Homo sapiens: one gene and its partners. The protein of the gene in region 1 interacts with the protein of each later gene in a biochemical or structural test. Each region holds a gene or a part of one and is shown on either strand. Other genes may lie near its edges. The genes, in order: HPF1, HMGN2 and HMGN4.

Region 1 (7,106 bases):
GGAGGAAGGGTAGCATTTGTAACCTAGTTAATGTATTTCTAATTTGTTTTGACTAAAGTCTGAGCATCCGTACACATAATAGCTGTTAGCAAATTATTTAATCAGTCTTTTTTTATTTTTCTACCACAAGCTATGATTTATTTCAGAGGAGATTTTCTTAATTCTTCCCCATAAAGAAGATATGATTGAGGTTTAAATTTCATAGATATTTTTGTCCTAGACCCCTCCCCTATGAAGTTTCATTTTAGTATTTGTTTTTTATACAAAAACAGCTGGTAAAAACAAAGACAAAAAAGAACTTTCAAGACAATCATGTTTTTAATCCTCCCCTGTTAATGACTATACTTTCAAACCCTTTTCTGTTAAATGCAAGGTTGTTCTTTTATTGTTTTTGTGAGATCTTCATTGAATTCATATTTTTCTACTGAAGAATTCAATTCCACTAGTATATGTGAGTTAGTGGCTTTGTCCTTGTGTGTGAGCGTAAGCATATTTCCACTCTAGTATGATAGAGCACTGTGCAGCACACTAGAAATCAGTGTTTTTATACTGATAGTAACTTAGCATACTTTGGAATGCAGAGTCTTTATGAGTTATATCATTTGACTCCCTACAACAAATCTGCAAAGTTGGAATTATCCTATTTTATAGATGAGTAAATTGAGGGTTATAGAGGTTTTGTGTCTTGTCCAAAATCTTAAATGACACATGTAAAACCCAACTTCATATTTTCCATATTTAGCATTCTTTCCACCCCATCTTCTTACTAATTGGCTCTCTGCCACTTCACCTTTTTCATACCTGGATTTCTTCATAAGGAACGTTGGTTAAATGATGCATAAAATGATGGTGTGGCACTCCATCCACCTGTGATCCCATGCTTCAGGATGTCACCCACCCCTATACAGCTTTCCTAAATTTGTAATCTTATTCTTCTTAATTTCTTAATAAAATTACAATTCTGATGACTTCTTAATTGATTCCTCTTCATGGACAATTAGTACAGGTAATCATCTGTGAAAAATCTGAACATATTACCATCATTCTTTATGTTGTTCAGCCTGAGCTGGCAACTATAGCACTGCTGTCTTTTTCTTTCATTATCAGTGCTTTATGTCCTGCTTTTTACACTTATGAATATGGTATCTTTATCATTTCATATTGCCAATTTAAGATCTACCTCATAATTTTGAGCGGCTGCAGAATACTGTGCTTATGGTCAAAGTTTGGGTTGCTTAAGATTTTTCACAAACACAATCCTGCCATAGATATCCTTTTATACCTTTATTCTCATACTTATCTGGTTATTTTTTTAGAAGAAATTCCTAGACGTAGTATTGCCAGGTCCAAAGTAGTTTGTGTGTGTGTAGGTGTGTTTGTAGTTTTTCTTTGCTTGTTTCTAATTTTGGGGGGTTTTCTTTAGTCTTTTTAGTTTTTTCCATGCTGGTAGGTATAAAATTCTGCAGTTTTAATTAGCATTTCTTTAATTATAAAGGACGTTAAATACTTTTCTCTGTTGGCCATTGTATTTTTTTTTTAACTGCCTGAACTCTGCCCATTTCTCTATCAGGGTTAGAATTAGTCTTTTTCTTACATGTGTTCTAATTTGGATGTTAGTCTTTTCCTTTGTTAGACTCCCTTATAGTTTAAAGACATTAATTTTTATTTACTATTACATTTTGCAGATATATTTTATCAGTTAATTTGTCTTGTGTACTTGATTTCACTGGATAGACTTTTTATTTTTATATAGTCAACTCTTCTCTATCACAAAATTATTTTTTAAAATTTACCTTCGAGTAGTTTTATGTCTTTATTTTTTATTTATTATGCTTTAAATTTTAGGGTACATGTGCACAACGTGCAGGTTTGTTACATATGTATACATGTGCCATGTTGGTGTGCTGCATCCATTAACTCGTCATTTACATTAGGTATATCTCCTAATGCTATCCCTCCCTCCTCCCCCCACCCCACCACAGGCCCCAGTGTGTGATGTTCCCCACTCTGTGTCCAAGTGTTCTCATTGTTCAATTCCCACCTATGAGTGAGAACATGTAGTGTTTGGTTTTTTGTCCTTGTGGTAGTTTGCTGAGAATGATGGGTTCCAGCTTCATCCATGTCCCTACAAAGGACATGAACTCATCCTTTTTTATGGCTGCATAGTATTCCATGGTGTATATGTGTATGGTTTTATTTTTACATTTAATTCTGAAATCCAGCTGCAGATTATCTTGATAGAAAGATTAAGATAGAAGACAATGACTTCATTTTTTTCCCAAGTGGTAAGCAGTTGTCTGATAACTTCCTTTGAATAATCTGCCCTTTCTGGCAGCTTAATAAAGGATAATGAAAGAAGCAAGAGACTGGGAGAATAGGGAGATTAGAGAGAAAAAAATCTTTAAGATATAGAGACTTAGGTGAGAGGCCTTTAAAATTGGAGTTTGGTTTTTGGGTTGTGTCCTTCCTCTGCCTTGGAAACTTTTCACTGAATTGCACAAAGAAGTGGAATATTTGTACAGATGTTTCGCTAAGGAAAGACCTAAAAATAATGTCACTAACATGAGCTAAAGGAAGAATGGAAACTGGAAGGGTTATGGTGGTAGTTGTAGTTGGGCCTGTTTTTGTCTTTGAAGACTACCACTTAATAAAAGCTCACTGGTTATGTGATTTGCCTCCATAAAGGACACCACAAACCTAGAAACTGCCCTACTTTTGGGAAGTTTGCAGAGAAGCCTAAATATTCCAGGTAAAAATAGGGGAGTCTCAATTTGGCAGGATGGATGAGAGGAGTTCTGTCCTACCATATCTTCTTGCTGACAAGAACTATTTCTTACTCTTTTTCTTTTAGAACCAGGTTCCTCTGTGCTTTCTACCAGAAGGTACTTTGACCTTAGAGGAAACCAATATTTTGACTTGCCTTCTAGGATGTATTGGGTTCTTCCTTAACAAATCAGGGTGCAGACTTCCAAGTGACTGGCACAATTAAGAAAAGCCAATTATTTCACTGTTCTGTGATTACTTCAACTGTTTAACTTTTAGCTGATTTTCAAGAAAAAAATAGTGTTAAATTTTTACCCTGGAGTCCAAATTTACTGAAATAAAATGTGATTAAATGTTACATTTTGGCAGAAATGTTGAGGGTTTATGTATTTGGGGATTTTTTTTTTTGATGTCTGCTTACCATGATTACATTTTATTCTTTTCTTTAATGTAGGTTGTGACAAAGACCTTTCATGGTGCAGGCTTGGTTGTTCCAGTAGATAAAAATGATGTTGGGTACCGAGAGCTCCCTGAAACAGATGGTAATGTATTTCATAGTAAACATGTGCATATATGTTAATGCACATGAATAAAGGTTTTGCTTATATTGGGAAGTAGGTATGTCTATATACCTTTTCTGACACAGTCGCTAGACCTTAGTAATAAAGAGTAAGCTGAGGTTTTAGAGTCAGTCATTCCTGAATTAAAACCGAGTTCATAGCTGTGTGGCCTTGAACAAATTATTTAACCCTGTGAAATCTTGTCTTTTTCATCTGTAAAATGGAGCTAATCATATGCACTTCATAAAGGAATTTGTGGTGTAAACAAGTATTAAAATACTTAACAAAATGCTTGCCTCAGTGTTCAAAATTCAGTAGTTTCTTTTTTTGTTTGTTTTTTTTTTTTTTTTTTGAGACGGAGTGTTGCTCTGTCGCCCAGGCTGGAGTGCAGTGGCGCAATCTCAGCTCACTGCAACCTCCGCCTCCCAGGTTCAAGCGATTCTCCTGCCTCAGCCTCCCAAGTAGCTGGGATTATAGGCACCCACCACCATGCCCAGCTAATTTTTGTATTTTCAGTAGAGACGGGGTTTCAGAATTTTAACCCATTGCCTGCTTCTTGGGAACTATTTCCGAACCTTTGACATTACAGTCAACTTGCAAAGTAGTAATTATTGAAATTGTGTTTTTATGGTTCTTTGTGAACATTTTTTCATCTGCCTATAAAATGATTTAGCTTTCAGAAGCCCAAGATCCTGAACTACGTCATCTGTAAGTATAAAAACACTTTGAAAATGGACCACTGCGCATAATCTAGTTATTGCTACGTTAAACATCGAGAATTAAAATCGCTTCTCAATTCTTTTCCCCTTGTCTCCATTCCCTTATCGTGAACAGCCCTGCTGGTATTCCTTTATTGATCATCCTCTTCTGGGGGGATAAAACTTAAAGGGAAATCAAACTTAGCATCTTCTCAAAGAACCACATATTCCTGCCCAATGCACGTATTTGGCCGTCTGCTTTTCAGAACAGAACTAACTAGCCTTGGTAGTTACCAGTCTCTGGGGGTTGTGACCTGGACATCTGCATTTAAACCAATTCTCTAAAGCAGTTCTTCTCAAATTTTACTGTGCAGAGTCTCCAGCCAGTAGGTAGAGATGTCTTAGATGGCAGCTACTCATACGGACCTGTTTTTGCTGTACCCCTGCCACTTAGAGGAGTGCCATAGGGAAGACGAATGTGGCTGAGCTGTCCAGTGTGATGGCCACTGAGTGCCTCACAGGTGGCTCCTGCAACAAAATTTGTAACTCGTATTTATTTTTTACTTCTTTTTTTTTTTTTTTTTGTGACAGGGTCTCACTCTGTCACCCAGGACGGAGCGCAGTGGTGCAATTAACCTGTCTCGGCCTCCCGAGTAGCTGGGACTACAGGTGTGCACCACCATGCCTGGCTAATTGGTGGGTTTTGTTTTTGTTTTTGTTTTTGTCCTGTAGAGACGGGGTCTCACTCTGTTGCCGATGCTGGTCTCGAACTCCTGGGCTCACGTGATCAACCCACCTCGGCTTCCCAAAGTTTTGGGATTATAGGCATGAGCCACCGAACCTGGCCTGTAATTTTCTATAATTTTAATTAGTTTAAGTTTGTAAATTAAAACAGGATTAAATGTTTCTTACATTGATTATATGTTGACATAATACTATTTTGGAAATATGGGTTAAATAAAATATCTTAATTTCACCTGTTTTTTGTTGTTGGTTTTTTTTTTTTTTTTTAGCTCCTTCTCCTGCCCCACCTGTTTCTTTTTTCATGTGGATACTGGAAAAAATGTAACCCACACTGTATTTCTCTTAGACAGGCTGATCTGTCCTATATCTCCTCTTTGAAGCCAGAGTCAATTAGTCTCTGATGGGACCATTGTGGGCCCTAGCTACTGGTCAGTCTTCTGCTTCTACACTAAGTCATCTTCTCTTCATGTCTCTGCTCACAGAGAGAGCTTTAAAAAGCATGATTACTATCTCGTTTGGGAAAGGTTGCGCACATTTGTTGTAGAGATGGGCAGTCTCTAAAGCTTTTGGGGTGATGGATGTTAAATTGTAGTGCCCTGGAGTAAAGCCTGTTACCCTGCGGTAGTTGTGGTTCTGGGGTTTTATATCCAAGTCTACTATTCTAGGCATTAGATCCTTCTGTATTTAATTAGTTTTGAAGTGGTAGCAAAACATTAAGACTGAAGGACCTAATCTTCTTGCTCTTGCCAGTGTCATTTGCCAAGAGGTATAACTGACTGGCAGTTTGTTAATGTGACAATGATTAGCAAATCACAACTAAGTTTGTTCTTAACCCTTTGAAGCTTCTCACAATAACGCTTTAACTTAGCAAATAAGATACGTTTTATTGAGCAATTCTTAAATGTCAGTGTCATGATTCACTTTAACAAGTGATGTATTTAATTCTCACCCAACTCTTTATTGTAGGTCTTATTCCCATGTTCACAAAGGAAATAGACTCACGGTGCTTAGCATTAGTCAGTAAGGGCTCTGGTTTTCTTTTTTTCTTTCTTTCTTCTTTTTTTTTTTTTTTGAGATGGAATTTTGCTCTTGTCACCCAGGCCGGAGTGCAATGGTAGGGTGTCAGCTCACTGTAACCTCCGCCTCCCAGGTTCAAGTGATTCTCCTGCCTCAGCCTCCTGAGTAGCTGGGATTACAGGCACCCACCACCATGCCCAGCTAATTTTTGTATTTTTAGTAGAGACAGGGTTTCAACCATGTTGATCAGGCTGGTCTCGAACTCCTGACCTCAAGTTATCTACCTGCCTTGGCTTCCCAAAGCCCCGGCTGAGGGCACTGGTTTTCATACTTGGTTTTCTGACTGTAGAGTGCATACTACTATCCGAAGTAAGAAGAGTTGCCTGCCTAGTTGCCTGATTTTTACCTTGACAGAACTACTGTAGCTTAATTTAAGTATTCTAGTTGATAGTAGTGGCAGGGATATAGTAAGAATTCAGCAGTGAAACTCCTAACTCATTAAATTGAGTATTTTGAGTAGAAACATTTAAGTCATCATTTTTGAATAGTTAACTTAAGGCTTCACTCATGTTCTTTAAGTTTGGGTTTCAGTTAAATGAAATTTCTGTAGAATGTTTTATTGCTGGAAGAACATATTTTTCCTTGTACTGATGGTGAGCTGAATATTTTCATCTCTGTTCTTCAGTGTTTTTCTAGCTTAGTAATTCGCATAAGTTGCTTATTCTTTTTAGTCCATATGTGACTTGCCAGGTGTAAAAATAGAAAATAAGATACTGGAAAGCGATAAACTTTAAATTCTTCACTTCCATACCCACCCTGATTTGTAGTGGCTGACTGGAGCACAGCGAGAGAGATTCTAAGGGTCCCAGTCAATCAGTTACACCCACGATAACAGGGAGGAACCACTTATTTTCCATCCTTAAGGAGCTTTTTGGAGAAAGCTTCATCTGTTTTCTTGAAATGATCAGCACTGATTTTTCTGAAGAAAGGAATGTCATGAAGCTCATGTAAAATAATTTAATTTGTAAAAGGTTTCAAACCAACAAATATGTCACTACTGTTTATAGATAGTTAGAAACGTAGGTGGTGCAGTTTGCCATTCGTTCAATGCGATACTGGTCCACCAAAAGTGGGAAAGGGAACAACACATTTTGTGACTGGGGTAACAGCATGTATTCTGTACTGTCGTCAAGACTGAACCAAATGTTATTCATAGACTGGGGTTAAAAGCACTAGTATATAGTATATTTTTAATACCATCCTTGGTAATTTTTTTTTTTTTTTTTTTGAGACAGGGTCTTACTCTGTCACCCAGGCTGGAGTG
Region 2 (7,526 bases), on another chromosome or scaffold:
CCCCAAGTGCTGGAGAGGAAGAAGCCCAGTCTCTGCCCTCTAGTACTTGGGATGATAACTGCTGCCAGGGAGTATGATCACCACCTGGTGTCAGAGCTGGTTGCAAGAGGCTTGAAGGCTCTCAAACTTCCAAGGGCTTATTTTCTAACAGAAAGAGTGGATTGTGAACACTAACACTTATTCTACTATGCAGAATGCAATAAGTGGCTTAAGAGAGTTGAACCTGCTTCTCAGAATGTTCATAGGGGGGTCATTTGCTGGAAGGATCAGGCTGGTCTTCATACAGGAGGCAAGTCTGGAGCTCTGAAAAATAGCCTAGGGAGTGGGGAGGATGGTACCCTCAGAGGAAAACCTGGGGAGATCAAAGGAAGTGACCCAAGGGACATGTCCCCGACAAGAATAGGACCTTTCTTGCAGCGGAGAATAGACAATAACAACTTGTAAAATTGCTGTTTCTGTCTAAGAGCCTGCTAATATCCTAGAGAGGATTTTGCATATGTTATCTCTAATCCTTAAAACCACTCTTCAAGGTAGGCACAACCCCCACTTTACAGATGAAGAAATGAGGTTAGGACAGGATTTGCCCAAAGACACAAAGCCAGTTGATGGGGGAATCAGAAGTCAGACCCACATTTGTTTGGTTCCAAGAGCATGAGAAAAACTTTAAGAAGTACAGACGCTTCCACACAAAACAAACCAAGATGGACCCAGAATTGCCACTGCCCTGCCTGTACAACATGAGCACCACCCACTGCATACCTACTCCCAAGCCTTTTCAAATCTGGTACCTACTTTCCACTGTTCCACTTCACTTGGCCCACCCTGTGCCCCACCCCCTACCTCCTCCATCCCAGTTTCACCCACTCCTAAAAATGATCTCCCCACCCCAATCCCCACTTTTCTCTAGCAGAAGGCCCGAGACATGTATGCAGAGGAGCGGAAGAGGCAGCAGCTGGAGAGGGACCAGGCTACAGTGACAGAGCAGCTGCTGCGAGAGGGGCTCCAAGCCAGTGGGGACGCCCAGCTCCGAAGGACACGCTTGCACAAACTCTCGGCCAGACGGGAAGAGCGAGTCCAAGGCTTCCTGCAGGCCTTGGAACTCAAGCGAGCTGACTGGCTGGCCCGTCTGGGCACTGCATCAGCCTGAATGAGGCTGGCCACCTGCCACTTTGCCCTGCCCTCTGCCTCCAGGGCTCCACTCCCCTTCCTTTTCTTGGTGAAAGGCACCTCCTTTCCTGATAATGAATGGTGTTCCCTTTGCTTGGCTGGGGAGCCCCCCAGGCCAGGTTTGCTGGCCATAGATACCTTTGGGCTGCCTGGGACAGGCTCCTGAGGAGGATTGAGGGTGAAAGTCTCCCACGAGTACACTAAACCTAGGTCTGGTCACCAATAGGGTTTGGAGAGCAAAGGGCCACAACTCATCAGCTGCCTGTCTCTTAGATGCACTTTCTTTTTCCACCAGCACATCCTTCAACACACAGAATTTCAGGGAAGAGTTCTCCCCAAAACCCTAGCTCTTTACCCTTCCATTTTAGCCTTCCACCCAGCTTCCACAAAAGATTTGGCTCTACCTTGGATCTGCTAGTAAATAACTAATAGGCAGGCAGTTATTTGGGTAAGGAAAAAAGGGGTGGGAGAGACAGAAAATTTGCCCATCTGCTGCTCCTCCCCCTTGGCTCTCCACCTGGGATTTGCTATTGAATCTCTACCCTCTCCCACCACACAGTACTGATTGCTCACTGAAAGACTCAGCACCCCCAATGGTGCGCGGAAGCCAGGCGGGCGATTACAATCCAATTACCTATTGTCGACTCAGCCCACACAAGCTTTTCTCCTCCTCTTGCAGGGCATGGGGCCAGGCTCCACTCCCAAATGAGACTGGCCCCCTCCATGGTTCAGGGTAACAGAAGGGCCTGTAGGCCCTGGTGAACTGAATCCAGCACAGGCCTCCCCTGTAACACAACAGGACTGAGCAGAACCAAACACTTCTTCCAACTGACTCTGCTCCCTGCCCTCACCATCTCAAACTCTGATTCCCACTCCACTCTTCGAGGTTTCTCTCAGCTTTTTGACCTGGCTCCCTAAGTAGGCCCTAGATGATTTATTCTTGGCATGGCAAAGCTTGTTCTAGGTCCTCTGCTTGTGAGGGTCAAAGCTGTGTCCTTTCCCTTACCTCCCTCTGCCAGGACTTGCTGCAGAGCTGCTGAGAGGATTAGTGCCTTTGAAGAGCTGTCTGCCTGAGCAACTCTATTTCAGGTGCCCCACACCGGCAAGTACCAGCCAGCAACACCAACCAAATGCTACTCTCTTTAAAGTCCATTTTCCTTCTTCTTTTTTTTTTTTTTTTTGGAGACAGCATCTCACCCTGTCCTGGCTGGTCTCGAACTCCTGACCTCAGGTGATCCGCCGGCCTCACCCTCCCAAAGTGCTGGGATTACAGGCATGAGCCACCATGCCAGACTTCCCATTTTACTTTCTGCAAGCTGTTTCCCTAGCAGCTCCCTCTAGGGGAGAGGTGAAATCTTGCAAGTTGTAGCAAGAGCACACAGGAAACCCCTAACTTTCCTATACCCCACCCGCCTCTTCCCCTTTCTGTCCCGGGATACCTGGCGGCAAGAGACTTCTTGGCTATTGTCCATGCTCCCAGAATCAAGCATAAATGCCAGACACGGCGATTGAGAAGCCAATCAGTGAACCCTTTGGCAAAGCCCCCATCCACACCTGGCACTCCCCTCTACCAATCCCTGGCACAGGGTTCCTGGAGAGCAGGTGCTGTACATTTTACAGCTTTACAATGGGGCTGTTGACAGCCATAATTAGGGAGGCATGAATTATGCGGCTATAATGCAGAGCCCTACAATTAAGGCGGGAATGAGGGGCTGGAGGCAGCAAACGGAATCTGCCCTATGAGCGTGGCTGTTGAGTCCTGTCTCCTGGGTCTGACTTTCCGTAATATGATTGGGGTACAGTAGAGGTGATTAATGGGGCTGGCATCTCTCTTTGGCCTGAGGTTCTGTATTCTGGGAAAGGTACACAGGGTGGAGTAGGGAGAAGCTGCCCCAGGAGGCGATGTAGTGGTGGAAAGAAGAGGCAGAGAGGTCGTCGTCGTCGCCCAGCAGCAAGGGCTGCAAAATAGTAGAACTCGTGGTTGCTTTGGACAGGTGTGATTTGTGCAAGCCAGGTTCAACCCTTGCCTCAAGAAATCAGATGGGACCAATTTAGTGTCCTTCCACCTGTGAGCCAAGCCCCCATTTGAGGACATCTATCGTATTCTTGTGTGCTGGGTCTCAAATAGAATTTTTAAAGATTCTTAGATGTAAAACTTGTTTGCTAACTGCAACGGAAGAACACCTTCTTTTGCTGCTGCAATTGCCTACCCTCCCTCAGGTGCACTTGGCTAGCTCCAAGACCCTGGCTTTGGACTAGGGGGCACCGGAAGAGCCCTTTTGCCATCACACCACCTGTTCCTCTACTTGTTTCCTAATCCCCGGGCGCTTTCCTCCACCCTCCTTTCCTCGCGCAAGTGAAAGGCAGCCAGCTTGACAGTGTGGAAGGAGGGATTTCGCCAGCTGCGGCTGCAGTGCCCAGGCTTGGTGGCCGCGTCGGGTTGGGCAGCTGGGCAAAATGTCTCCGAGAGGGGTAGAGTGTAGGGGGAAGTGAGTGCTGGTAGACCTCGACGGCCGCTCTCCACCATACTGTGGCGGGGTCTGGAGGTTTGGGAATACAGGGACCTTAAGGGAGCCACCCGAGAGGAGTTGGGGGTGGGGGCTTCGATAGCATTTGGGGAGGCGGCTGCGCAACGGGTGCTGAAAGGACAGCTCCTACCTGACCCACGGCACCCAAAAGGCACCTCTGCATGGAAAGTCTCCCCCTGAAACCCCTAGCCCACCTCGAGTGGGACCGTCTTTCAGGTGAGGTGCACGAAAGGCTTCTCCGAAGTGGCAGCTCGGAAGGATGCACGTCCGGCTGCGCCAAGCTGGTTTCCCCGCCTTTTTCCCACTTTGGCGTCAGCCTGGGCTCTGGGAACTGCAGCCTGTGCCTCCAGCCGCGCGCTTCCTCCTGCTTCCAGAGGAGCAGGGCAGTGCAGCCAGGCCTCGCAAACCCCTCTTCTGGGGCCCCCAGCGGGAGCAGGAAGGAAAGCCGCTGAGATGCGCCGTGAGTGTCGCACGGCTTGGAGAAGTGGGTTGCTGGGTTGCATAAGGTGGAAGGAACTTGCTAGTTTGCAAAAGACAGCTCTTGGCGGGAGCCGGAACCCGGAGCCCGCCGACTCGCGCACCCCTCCTCATTTACTGCCTTCGACGCGCGCCACCCCGACTGCGCCCCCACCCCCTCGGCGCGCCGCCGTCTCCGCGCACTACCCCCCCCACACACCCCCCTCCTCACTCCCTCCAGAGGAGGTGAGTTTAAACCCCGCCCACGTGACCCCAGCTGGGCCAATGAACGGCGGCGGGAGGTGAAATCCGGTTCTAACCGGTCCGGGGCTCCCAGCGCTATAAAAACTTTATAAACCCCCCGGAGCCCGAGCAGTGTGAAGAAGAGGCGAGAACGACCCCCGGACCGACCAAAGCCCGCGCGCCGCTGCATCCCGCGTCCAGCACCTACGTCCCGCTGCCGTCGCCGCCGCCACCATGCCCAAGAGAAAGGTACGTGGCGCGAGGGCCCCAGGCGCCGGGCCACCACTGCCGCCACCGCCGCCGCCGCCTCCCTGGTGCAGGGAGCGAGAATCGGCGCCGAGCAGGAGCCAGCGCAGCCTCCCCGCGCGGGGGCTGGAGACGGTGTCGGGCAGCTCGGGGCTAACCCTGAGCGGCTCGGCTGCCCGCGGGCGCCAGAGGCCATATTGGAGGAGCGGCGGCCGCGGCGGGAGGAGCCATGTTGGCGGCTGTTTATCCCGCTCTCCTCGGGCTCGCCGCCCCCGCCCCGTGCCCCCTCCCCCATCGCGAGGGCCCCTTCCCTCCCCTCCCTGCGGGCGGGCAATTCAAACCCGAAAGGGCGGGAAGGCGGCGCTCGGGGTTGGCGGGCGGGGGAAAGCGCTGCCGCCAAAAAACCGCCGCCGTGAGGGGCGGGGCTTGTGCGGTATGGCCCCGCCCCCTCGCCCACGTTCCCCGCGCACGAGACGCGCGCTGTCGCCGCCCACGAGTTCCCCGGGCTGCGCGCGCCTCCCTCTCCCGCCCTCGACGGCTGCCATAGCAACGGCGCTGGGCTCCGCCTCCGGAGGGGGTTTGTTTGCGCCATCTGCAGCTGTTGCTCCTGCCTGTCGCGGTGGTGCGGGCTCCGCTGCCCTCCCCGGCTGCGCTCCGGTCCAGCCCTCGCTTCTCGGGGTCGGCGAGCCGGAGCTCCTGCGCGCGCTTCGTTCTTATACGAACGTCGGGCTCACTCATTTATGTCCTAGAAAAGTTGTGTGGACGACTGCTTTAATTTTCATTTTTAGCACTCTAAAGTTTGGGAAGTAATTAAGAACCACCTCAAAATCTGCAGTTTTTTGTTCTTGTTTCTTATAGGCTGAAGGGGATGCTAAGGGAGATAAAGCAAAGGTGAAGGACGAAGTAAGTCATTCTCTCTTCAAGGGTCAAAGCCTTGGACTAGCAGAGGCCACTGGACTCGGTGATTAACCGTAACCTGTGTCCTGAATTTACACTCCTATAATCTAGAGCAAATTGATACCAAACTTTCAAAGCGACTTACCTGTCCTATTTCTAACTTTCTCGTTGTCTTTAATAGCCACAGAGAAGATCCGCGAGGTTGTCTGCTGTAAGTGTATGCTTTTGAATTTTCGTGCTTGTCCCTGAAACTAAAAAACATCAAAAAACAATTCCCTTTGCTTCCATGAATTATGGTTAGTGCCTGGTTTTGAATCATTGCCTCTACTTGGGACTCTTGCCCCTTTGGGTTTTGCTGGTTCTGAAATTCTGATGCCTGTAGCCAAAGTGGGACATTTGAGTGGGCTTCTGGAAATCCAACATTCTAGAAGAAAGCCAACCACAAAAACTTTTGAGGAGGAGGAGAAACTTCTCTACCCTTGGTACTTTTGGTTGGTTGTGGGTGGTTTTCTTCAGTCCATTGTACTGATGTTCACTTTTTCCTCTCTTCCTGCCAAAAAAAGAAACCTGCTCCTCCAAAGCCAGAGCCCAAGCCTAAAAAGGCCCCTGCAAAGGTAAGTGCTAACATTGGAACTGATCATTTTCACAGAATGAGGACTGTCCTTAGTGCCTTAACTTAATTAGCATAATGGTGCCTCCATTAATGGAGGTTATAAACTGTGTGGATAGCTTACCTCGTCCGTGTCATTCATAACGTTGGTTTCCTGATCAAGAATTCTGTTGTTAGTTTATAGGAAAATCTGCATTTAAATATTAAATACCCCAGGGTTTAAACTAATTTATTCTTCTGTTACTTAGGAAATTCTAAGTACTAAAGATTATAGCAAATTACAGATAATTTAGCCTAGTTTTGATCAGTTGTTCTTGTCAAATGGGTGAGGGTTTGTGTTTTATCTTGAGTAAACAATCCTACCTTGTGCAGAACTTTGCAGACCATACCTTGGTAATACGAAATGGGGAGAAACAGTTCTATTTTTTCCCCTTTTTCAGAAGGGAGAGAAGGTACCCAAAGGGAAAAAGGGAAAAGCTGATGCTGGCAAGGAGGGGAATAACCCTGCAGAAAATGGAGATGCCAAAACAGACCAGGTATAACTGCTGTTTCACCCTTTGTTAGATTTGTTCATTCAGTTAGTTGCTGATATCAAAAATTTAATTGCCCTTTTCTTGTATCACTCCAAATGTACCATTTGGTCCAGTGTGCTTGTGGCTTTCCTGTTAACTTAAATCCTGGATTCTTGAAATCTCTACTGTCAGCTGAAGGGCATTGTGTTTTATACTACATGAAGTTTTCAAGCTAGGAGTAACCTCAGGTCTCTTATTCTGGTGTTCTTCCTACCTCAATTTTACAGTGAGGCCCAGAGGAGAGGTGACTTAGCAAAGTTACCTAGTAAGTCATTCTCAGAAGAAATACTGAGTCTCAGTACCTGAAACCTGAACTTTGGCCTGGGAGCAAAGTGATGCTGTAGGTGGAATGTGAACACAGATAGTTTTGAAATCTACGCATTGCATTAATTTGTCTGTTTTCTTTTAGGCACAGAAAGCTGAAGGTGCTGGAGATGCCAAGTGAAGTGTGTGCATTTTTGATAACTGTGTACTTCTGGTGACTGTACAGTTTGAAATACTATTTTTTATCAAGTTTTATAAAAATGCAGAATTTTGTTTTACTTTTTTTTTTTTTTTAAAAGCTATGTTGTTAGCACACAGAACACTTCATTGTTGTTTTTGGGGGAAGGGGCATATGTCACTAATAGAATGTCTCCAAAGCTGGATTGATGTGGAGAAAACACCTTTCCCTTCTAGTTTTGAGAGACTTCCTCTTGGCTCCCAGGAGGAGGGATTCCCTGACTTTGACACACATGGCCACCTTGGCACAAAAGCCTTGTGGTATAGAAAAACAAATTTGTTTTTATGTCCTCTTCTCCCTTTCCA
Region 3 (7,392 bases), on another chromosome or scaffold:
TTAATTTTTGTTGTTTAAGTCACTCAGCCTGTGGTACCTTGTTTCGGCAGCCCTAGCGGACTAACATAGGAGGGAACAGTGTAAGAATTTAGTGACTCAGGCAGGGCGTGGTGGCTCACGCCTGTAATCCCAGAACTTTGGGAGGCCAAGGTGGTCAGAAGTTCGAGACCAGCCTGGCCAACATGGTGAAACCCTATCTCTACTAAAAATACAAAATTAGCCATGGGTGGTGGTGCGTGCCTGTAATCCCAGCTACTAAGGATGCTGAGGCAGGAGAATTGCTTGAACCCGGGAGGCAGAGGTTGCAGTGAGCCGAGATTGCGCCACTGCACTCCAGCCTGGGCAATAGAGTGAGATTCTGTTTCAAAAAAAAAGGAATGTAATGACTAGGGAAACATCTTGGATTAGATTAATTTGGGGGTCTCACCCAGCTCTCAAAATATATTTTTCCATGTTTTTTCTCTTTCATAGCAAGCAAATCCATGGACCAAAATGCCACCTCATTCAATACTCATTTTCACCTCATCCCTAGCAAACACAAGGCACATTTTAGCAGCATCTTTTTGATCACTCGATGGATACGGAACTGGGTTTCTGGGAGGTAGTTCTAACTTGGGTTTTAGCCTCAATCCCACCCCGAAATCAGAAGGTTCCCCTCTCCCTCCCTGCCTCTTACTTAAGGAGAGATCGTGTTTGGGGGTTGGAGGGAAGATCTGGAAGAAAGTTAAGAACACCAAGCTTAGGAAGGAGAGAATAAAGGATATAATTAAAATACAATAAAAAATGCACAGGCAAATGCTGGGCGTGGTGGCTCACGCCTGTAATCCCAGCACTTTGGGAGGTGGAGGCAGGTGGATCACTTGAGGTCAGGAGTTCAAGACCAGCCTGGCCAACATGGTGAAACCCATTTCTACTAAAAATACAAAAATTAGCTGGGTGTGGTGGCATATGCCTATAGTCCCAACTACTTGGGAAGCTGAGGCAGGAGAATCACTTGAGCCTGGGAGGCGGAGGTTGCAGTGAGCCAAGATTGTGCCACTGCACTCCAGCCTGGGTGACAGAGCAAGACCCGGTCTCAAAAAAAAAAGAAAAAAAAAAAAAGATTCACAGGCAAGATGCAGTGTGCTACAGAAGCAAGAGGTCACATGGTGTCAGTCACTCTCCAGGGCGTTTGTTCTTCATCTTCCAAAGTATTAGAGACGCAGCATGAGTTTCCACGGAGGTTAAGTGAGAGAGACTGGGAGATGCAGGGGTAGAAAGGAAAGATGAGAAAACGCAGGGTGTCTAAAAGGGTAGGTTTGCTGCTGCAGCTTGCCAGAATGCATCTGCTTTAAAGAGAAGGAGTGAGCCATAAGCTCCCAAACAGTCACCCATCTGTAAAGGTTGGTTAGGGGCACACTCACCTTCCAGGCTAAAGTATTCCTGCTAACTGGGATCGGAGAAAGATGAAGAGGATAAATCCTTGTCATCTCCTAGGACCCTGGAACCTTTGCCCCCTTTCTGGGCACCATAATAACTTGCTTATATTTCTGAGTAGTACAGAGGGGATTTTAAATGAAAATGTATTAGACAGGTTGCTGTTGAGCACATGCCCAAGTTTATTGTCTTGCTAACCAAGATATTATCTTGCTAGCCAAGGTGTTGTCTTGTTAAGGGAACCAGCAAGATGACAAAAGAATGGACCTTTCAAGTCAACGTCTACCCAAGCAGCCTGTTTAAGAAAATGATAAAAAGAAAACAGCTCATTAACATTGTCCTTTTCTTTCTTTTCTTTTCTTTTTTTTTTTTTTTTTTTAATTTTGCGGACCCACCAAAGAATGCAGCCCTTCTTTTCTCATGGTCATAAAAATATCACATTCGGTTGGGCGCGGTGGCTCATGCCTGTAATCTCAGCACTTTGGGAGGCCGAGGCGGGCGGATCACTTGAGGTCAGGAGTTTGAGACCAGCCTGGCCAATATGGTGAAACTCCGTCTCCAACTAAAAATACAAAAATTATCCGGGTGTAGTGTTACACACCTGTAGTCCCAGCTGCTCGGGAGCCTGAGGCACAAGAATCGAGGTGGAGGTTGCAGTGAGCGAGATCGCACCATTGCACCCCAGCCTGGACAACAGAGTGAGACTCCGTCTCAAAAACAAACAAACAAAAACAAACACATCACATTCTTATTAGTCATTTGAGGGAACCTGGAGCAATATGATCTGAGAGGCTAGGCTTGGCTAATCCCTAGAAAAAGTAGTAATACATCTAAGAAAGAAATCCCTCTTAGGGAACACCCGAGGCTGCCAGGTGACACAACAAAACTTTCTCATAAAAGCGTTTGATTAATCCGATTAACTTGTAAGCAAGCCATGTGGCAGAGGTAAGAGGCCAAACACCAAGGCACCAGTCCTGATTCTAAACAAGTGCTGGTCCATTTCTTAACTTTGGGATCCATTTTTTCTTTGTGATGGAATAGCAAAAGGTCAAAGTGGAGGAGGACTCAGCCCTTGGGTGTCTCCTCAACGAGGGTTTCTCGAAGGTAAATTGGGGAGGAAGGGAGAGCCCACGGCAGGTCAGTCCAACCTGCCAGTCACCACCTCTTTAAGGCCACAGCCCTGCGGGAGCAATCCTTTCAAATCCCCTTCCTTCCTTCTTTTAGAACGCCCCTAGAACGCCGATTAGGACTTCTCATCCCGGTCGGGCCTGCGGCTCTCTGTGACCCCACCTCTGGATTCAGCTTTTCCCAGGGATTCACACTCGGAGCTCAGGAGAGATGCTGCGATTACTCTGGAGACGGGAAGACAGGCGGGGCTGACGGGGCCCAAGGCCCCTAATCATGACCGGGGCCAGCTGGCAGGAGGGTCCTAAGTATACGGAGGGCGGCGGGACCCCCCCCACCACGCCCCTCATTTTCCGGGGTAGCGCACAAAGTCTGTGAGGCACTTACCCGAGTCTCGTGGCCGTCCGAGGGGCGCGGGAATCCCAGCTGAGGCCCGTGACGCGCCGGAGCCCTAGGCGTGGGCAGGGCCAGCACCAGCCCTAAGACAGAGAAGACGAGCGGAGCCCGGCTCCGCCAGGAACAGGAAGGCGAGGGAAGGTGAGGATGCGCTTCCGGGGCTGCAGGCGGGGAGCCGCCCCGAGTCCAAGCCGGAGAGAGCTGGTTCTCCCCCTGGCGATACGTGTGTGAGCCTCTGAGGCCCGCCCTAAGCACTGCTGCCCCGATCTAGCAAGACAAGAAGACAGGAAATTTATGACAGCCTGAAAAAGTCTTTAAAAGATACACACTGGAAGAATTTCGTAGTAAGATGAGGAAAAAAAAACGTGTTTCCGCCCGGTTTCGAACCGGGGACCTTTCGCGTGTGAGGCGAACGTGATAACCACTACACTACGGAAACCCACTAAGGGCTTATTTTTCAGAGTAAATAGTTCTTCCTGCCTAGTTCCGTGTTTCTTCGTTCCAAGTGCGTGTTTTGCTGATGTGCGCGTGCGTCTCTGTACCGACCTCTCAAACCAGAAAAACCAATGAAAAGCTCAGACCCAGCCCCTCCAGTGTTCAAACTGAAGCCATAGAATTTATTCTACAAATGACTGAATAGGGAAGAACACAATAGAGACTTTAATTTAATCTCTGAACGGTCCTTCGTTCTTCGGCCAAAATGGCCAGGCAAGGCTGGGCACAACTTGGGTAGGGCGAGCGTTTCTCTGGCGTAGTTGGCGTTACCACGTGGTCAGTGGCAGAATGCTCCGCAAAGAAATGATAACCCCATATGTTGTCGGGAGCTGCCCCTCTTGCTTCTGAGTCTTCCAGGCAAATTTATCTTGCAGGAATTTCCTTACTCCTGCGGAGTCAGAAAGTTGTAAAACGACCCTGCTTACACCGAGCCAGCCAGGAGTCGAACCTGGAATCTTCTGATCCGTAGTCAGACGCGTTATCCATTGCGCCACTGGCCCTGCGCGTACCTTAGGGGCGAGGTATTTCATAAGAAACTAGGTTGTACCCGTAATATCTGGGTGAACGCCTGTAAGCCGCGTTTGCCCGCTGGTCCAGGCTCGCAGCGCATGGACTCTCTGGTAGCTACTTCTGCACACGCCCCGTGGCCTTCATTCCTTTCTCGGTCTGTCTCTGCCGGCTGAAAAATGGCGGTGAAAAGCAAGCCCTGCATCCTCTCTGCCCCAATATCACCGCTCCATTAATGCGTTCGTTCATTCAACCAGTATTAGTGTTCAAGGCACTGCAGATAACGGTGAAGAAAACATGAGAGACCCTTGCCCTCAAGATTACATGGCAGTGGCGGAAGCGGATAATAAAGCATTAAATAAACAAAATAATAGTGATAAGCGATTGGAGAAAAATAATAATAAAACAGGGAAAGAGGATAGGAAAGGCCAGCAGTGAAAGTGATGAATGAGGGATAAATGCTGATATCGGGGAAATGAGTGATCTGGAACAGGGAAAAATCGCTAGGGAAAAGGCCTGGAGGTGGAAGCAGGCTTGGGAGTTATGTTGAGGAGGCCGGTGCTCAGTGGAGAGGAATAGGAGATCCTGGGAGACCACCTCCAGCTTTATAGGCCCTTGTAAGGACTCTGGCCAGCTTTACAGGCTCTTGTAAGGACTCTGGCTGGTATTCTGTAGGAAACTGGAAGCCGTTGTACGGTGACGTGGTCTGAGTTTTCATTTGTCTCTCTGTGGGTCTTTTTTTTTTTTTCTTCAAATATTTTACTAAGCGAAACTGTGCTAGGCCTCCTCACTGCATGCTGCTTCTACTGCAGGGCCTTGATCTCAGAATTTGACAGCTTTATAAGGAGCATCATCAACCCGGACACTCATATGAATGTTCACTTTTTCACTTTGAAAGCAAACAAACGTCTCATATGTGTGTGTTTTAGTTTGTCCATATTTCTGAGAATAAATCATCCCCATGCCTGGTGAGCATTTTAAATAAGATGAGGTCTACTAAACAGAAGTAAAACTGCCTGATATTGAGAATATACACTTTGAGATTAGAAAATATTTGTTTTCAGTTCATAAGGTTTCAACAGCCGTTACAAAAAATATTCTGCTCTTTCTGCATAAATATTAAGGTAGACCTAGGTTATGGATTACTCCCTAGGCAATAGCATAGGGATCTTCTCGTTAGGTTTTGTACTATGGACCCCAAGGGCAGCTTGGTGATTCTGGACTCTATCTCAGAATAATACTTTTAAATACACGAAAGAAAAGATAAATATGTAAGATTTCAAAAGAAAACTAATTATGTTAAAATAGGTTACCAAAACTTTTTTTTTTTTTTTTTTGGAGACAGAATTTTGCTCTTATTGCCCAGGCTGGAGTGCAATGGCGCGATCTCGGCTCACCGCAACCTCTGCCTCCCGGGTTCAAGCGATTCTCCTGCCTCAGCCTCTCAAGTAGCTGGGATTACAGGCATGCTCCACCACGCCCGGCTAATTTTGTATTTTTAGTAGAGACGGGGTTTCTCCATGCTGGTCAGGCTAGAGCATCCCTGGAAGTCACAGGTCCCACCTAGCACCTTAAAAATGAGCTTTAACCCAGCTGGCTGTAGGCTCTGTCCACATTCAGTCTCCTTAGTGTTTGTCTATAAAAATTTATCTGTGTTTTGCAGGCTTTGAAGACCTCCCTTGGGTGCCTCAAATTTCTTAGCCATATTCACTACAATAAATGCTTTCAGCTGGGCGTGGTGGCTCACGCCTGTAATCCCAGCGCTTTGGGAGGCCGAGGTGGGCGGATCACGAGGTAAGGAAATCGAGACCAGCCTGCCCAACATGGTAAAACCCCGTCTCTACTAAAAATACAAAAAATTAGCCGGACGTGGGTCCCAGCTACTCGGGAAGCTGAGGCAGGAGAATTACTTGAACCCGGGAGGCGGAGGTTGCAGTGAGCCGAGATCGCGCCCATTGCACTCCAGCCCAGGCAATAAGAGCAAAACTCTGTCTCAAAAAAAAAAAAAAAGAAATGCTTTTGCTTTGCTCTTGGAAATCTTTCTACATCTTTTCTGACAGTTCCAGTTTCAACTTCCAGTCTTTTCTTCAGCATATATCGGAGAAAGAGTCCAGATATATAAATCTAGATATATATCTATATATATCTAGGGTGAGGACTGGCAAGTCTGAAACCTGTAGGGTTGTAGGGCAGGCTGGAAACTCTCAGGCAGAAGCTGATGCTGAAGTCTTGAAACAGAATTTCTTCTTCCTTAGGGAGGCCTTTGTTTTGCTCTCAAAGCCTTTTAACTGATTGGATAAGGCCCATCTACATAAGGGAGAATCTTTTTTTAAGGTTAACTGATTGTTAACCACATTTACAAGATAACTTCACAGAAACATGTAGGTTAGTGTTTAATTGAATAACTGGGTAGCCTAAGTTGACACATACAACTATGACAGTGGTGGACTCTTCTCTGTGTTTCAGTGCAGTTTTTTTTAGTTTCACTCCCAGGCACATGGAAAACTACACCATCTGCCACTCTCACATTGTTTTACATGACTGTCGGCAGTCTGTGACACAGCCACCTGCATCCTCTCCAATTTCAGACGTGTGGAGCGGAGCCAATGTGAGGGTTCCATGGTTCCTAATCACAGTCGGAACTGAATAGAAGATATGGTTCACACCAAGAGTTCTGTAAATGATTGCTCAAAGTCTCAATTTGCTTCCAAGGCTCATCTCTGGCTAAACAATTCCTTTGACATTCTAGAAATTCTGTGCAAACTTCGTCAGCTGCCAAAGGAAAAACCAAAATAAAATACTATTGGCTCTGCTGTCTGGGGCCTGCCACAGTTGGGTTAAAGCCATATTAGGTGTGACTGTGCTATTTATGATGATTATATTGGCTCCAAGCACACTAATAATATGATGGCTAATCTTATAATAATAAAGTAATAAGTGCTTATTTCATGAGTCTCAATCAAAGTGAGTGCTGAATTCATAGACTGGCATCTTTTTTTTTTTTTTTTTTTTGAGACGGAGTCTCGCTCTGTCGCCCGGGGTGGAGTGCAGTGGCGCGACCTCAGCTCACTGCAAGCTCTGCCTCCCAGGTTCACGCCATTCGCCTGGCTCAGCCTCCCGAGTAGCTGGGACTACAGGCGCCCACCACCACACCTGGCTAATTTTTTTGTATTTTTAGTAGAGATGGGGTTTCACCGTGTTAGCCAGGATGGTCTCGATCTCCTGACCTCGTGATCCGCCCGCCTCGGCCTCCCAAAGTGCTGGGATTACAGGCGTGAGCCACTGCGCCCGGCCGACTTGCATCTTTTTATAAAAATGAAAACTCTAGTCGGCGTGACCTTTTACTGTTCCCCCCATCGCATACATAGGCAAAGGTACATGCCAATGTCTGCCTTAGACTGTGACAGAGAAATCCTTCAAATATTGATACAGCTAAGGAATACTGAAATGTCT

The links.
Region 2: the proteins of HPF1 (region 1) and HMGN2 form a complex in vitro, tested with the Homo sapiens proteins (one study listed by BioGRID).
Region 3: the proteins of HPF1 (region 1) and HMGN4 form a complex in vitro, tested with the Homo sapiens proteins (one study listed by BioGRID).

What each region holds. Positions count from the first base shown.
Region 1 is NC_000004.12:169,733,859-169,740,964, reverse strand, and holds part of HPF1 (histone PARylation factor 1), read left to right. Parts: intron 1-3,217; coding exon 3,218-3,305; intron 3,306-7,106. UniProt on the Homo sapiens protein: Cofactor for serine ADP-ribosylation that confers serine specificity on PARP1 and PARP2 and plays a key role in DNA damage response.
Region 2 is NC_000001.11:26,467,985-26,475,510, forward strand, and holds the start of HMGN2 (non-histone chromosomal protein HMG-17), read left to right. Parts: upstream 1-4,455; 5' UTR 4,456-4,628; coding exon 4,629-4,643; intron 4,644-5,498; coding exon 5,499-5,543; intron 5,544-5,718; coding exon 5,719-5,748; intron 5,749-6,100; coding exon 6,101-6,151; intron 6,152-6,587; coding exon 6,588-6,683; intron 6,684-7,128; coding exon 7,129-7,164; 3' UTR 7,165-7,526. Other genes in the region: dehydrodolichyl diphosphate synthase complex subunit DHDDS, read left to right, coding at 908-1,147. UniProt on the Homo sapiens protein: Binds to the inner side of the nucleosomal DNA thus altering the interaction between the DNA and the histone octamer. May be involved in the process which maintains transcribable genes in a unique chromatin conformation.
Region 3 is NC_000006.12:26,534,038-26,541,429, reverse strand, and holds the start of HMGN4 (high mobility group nucleosome-binding domain-containing protein 4), read right to left. Parts: upstream 3,065-7,392; 5' UTR 2,929-3,064; intron 1-2,928.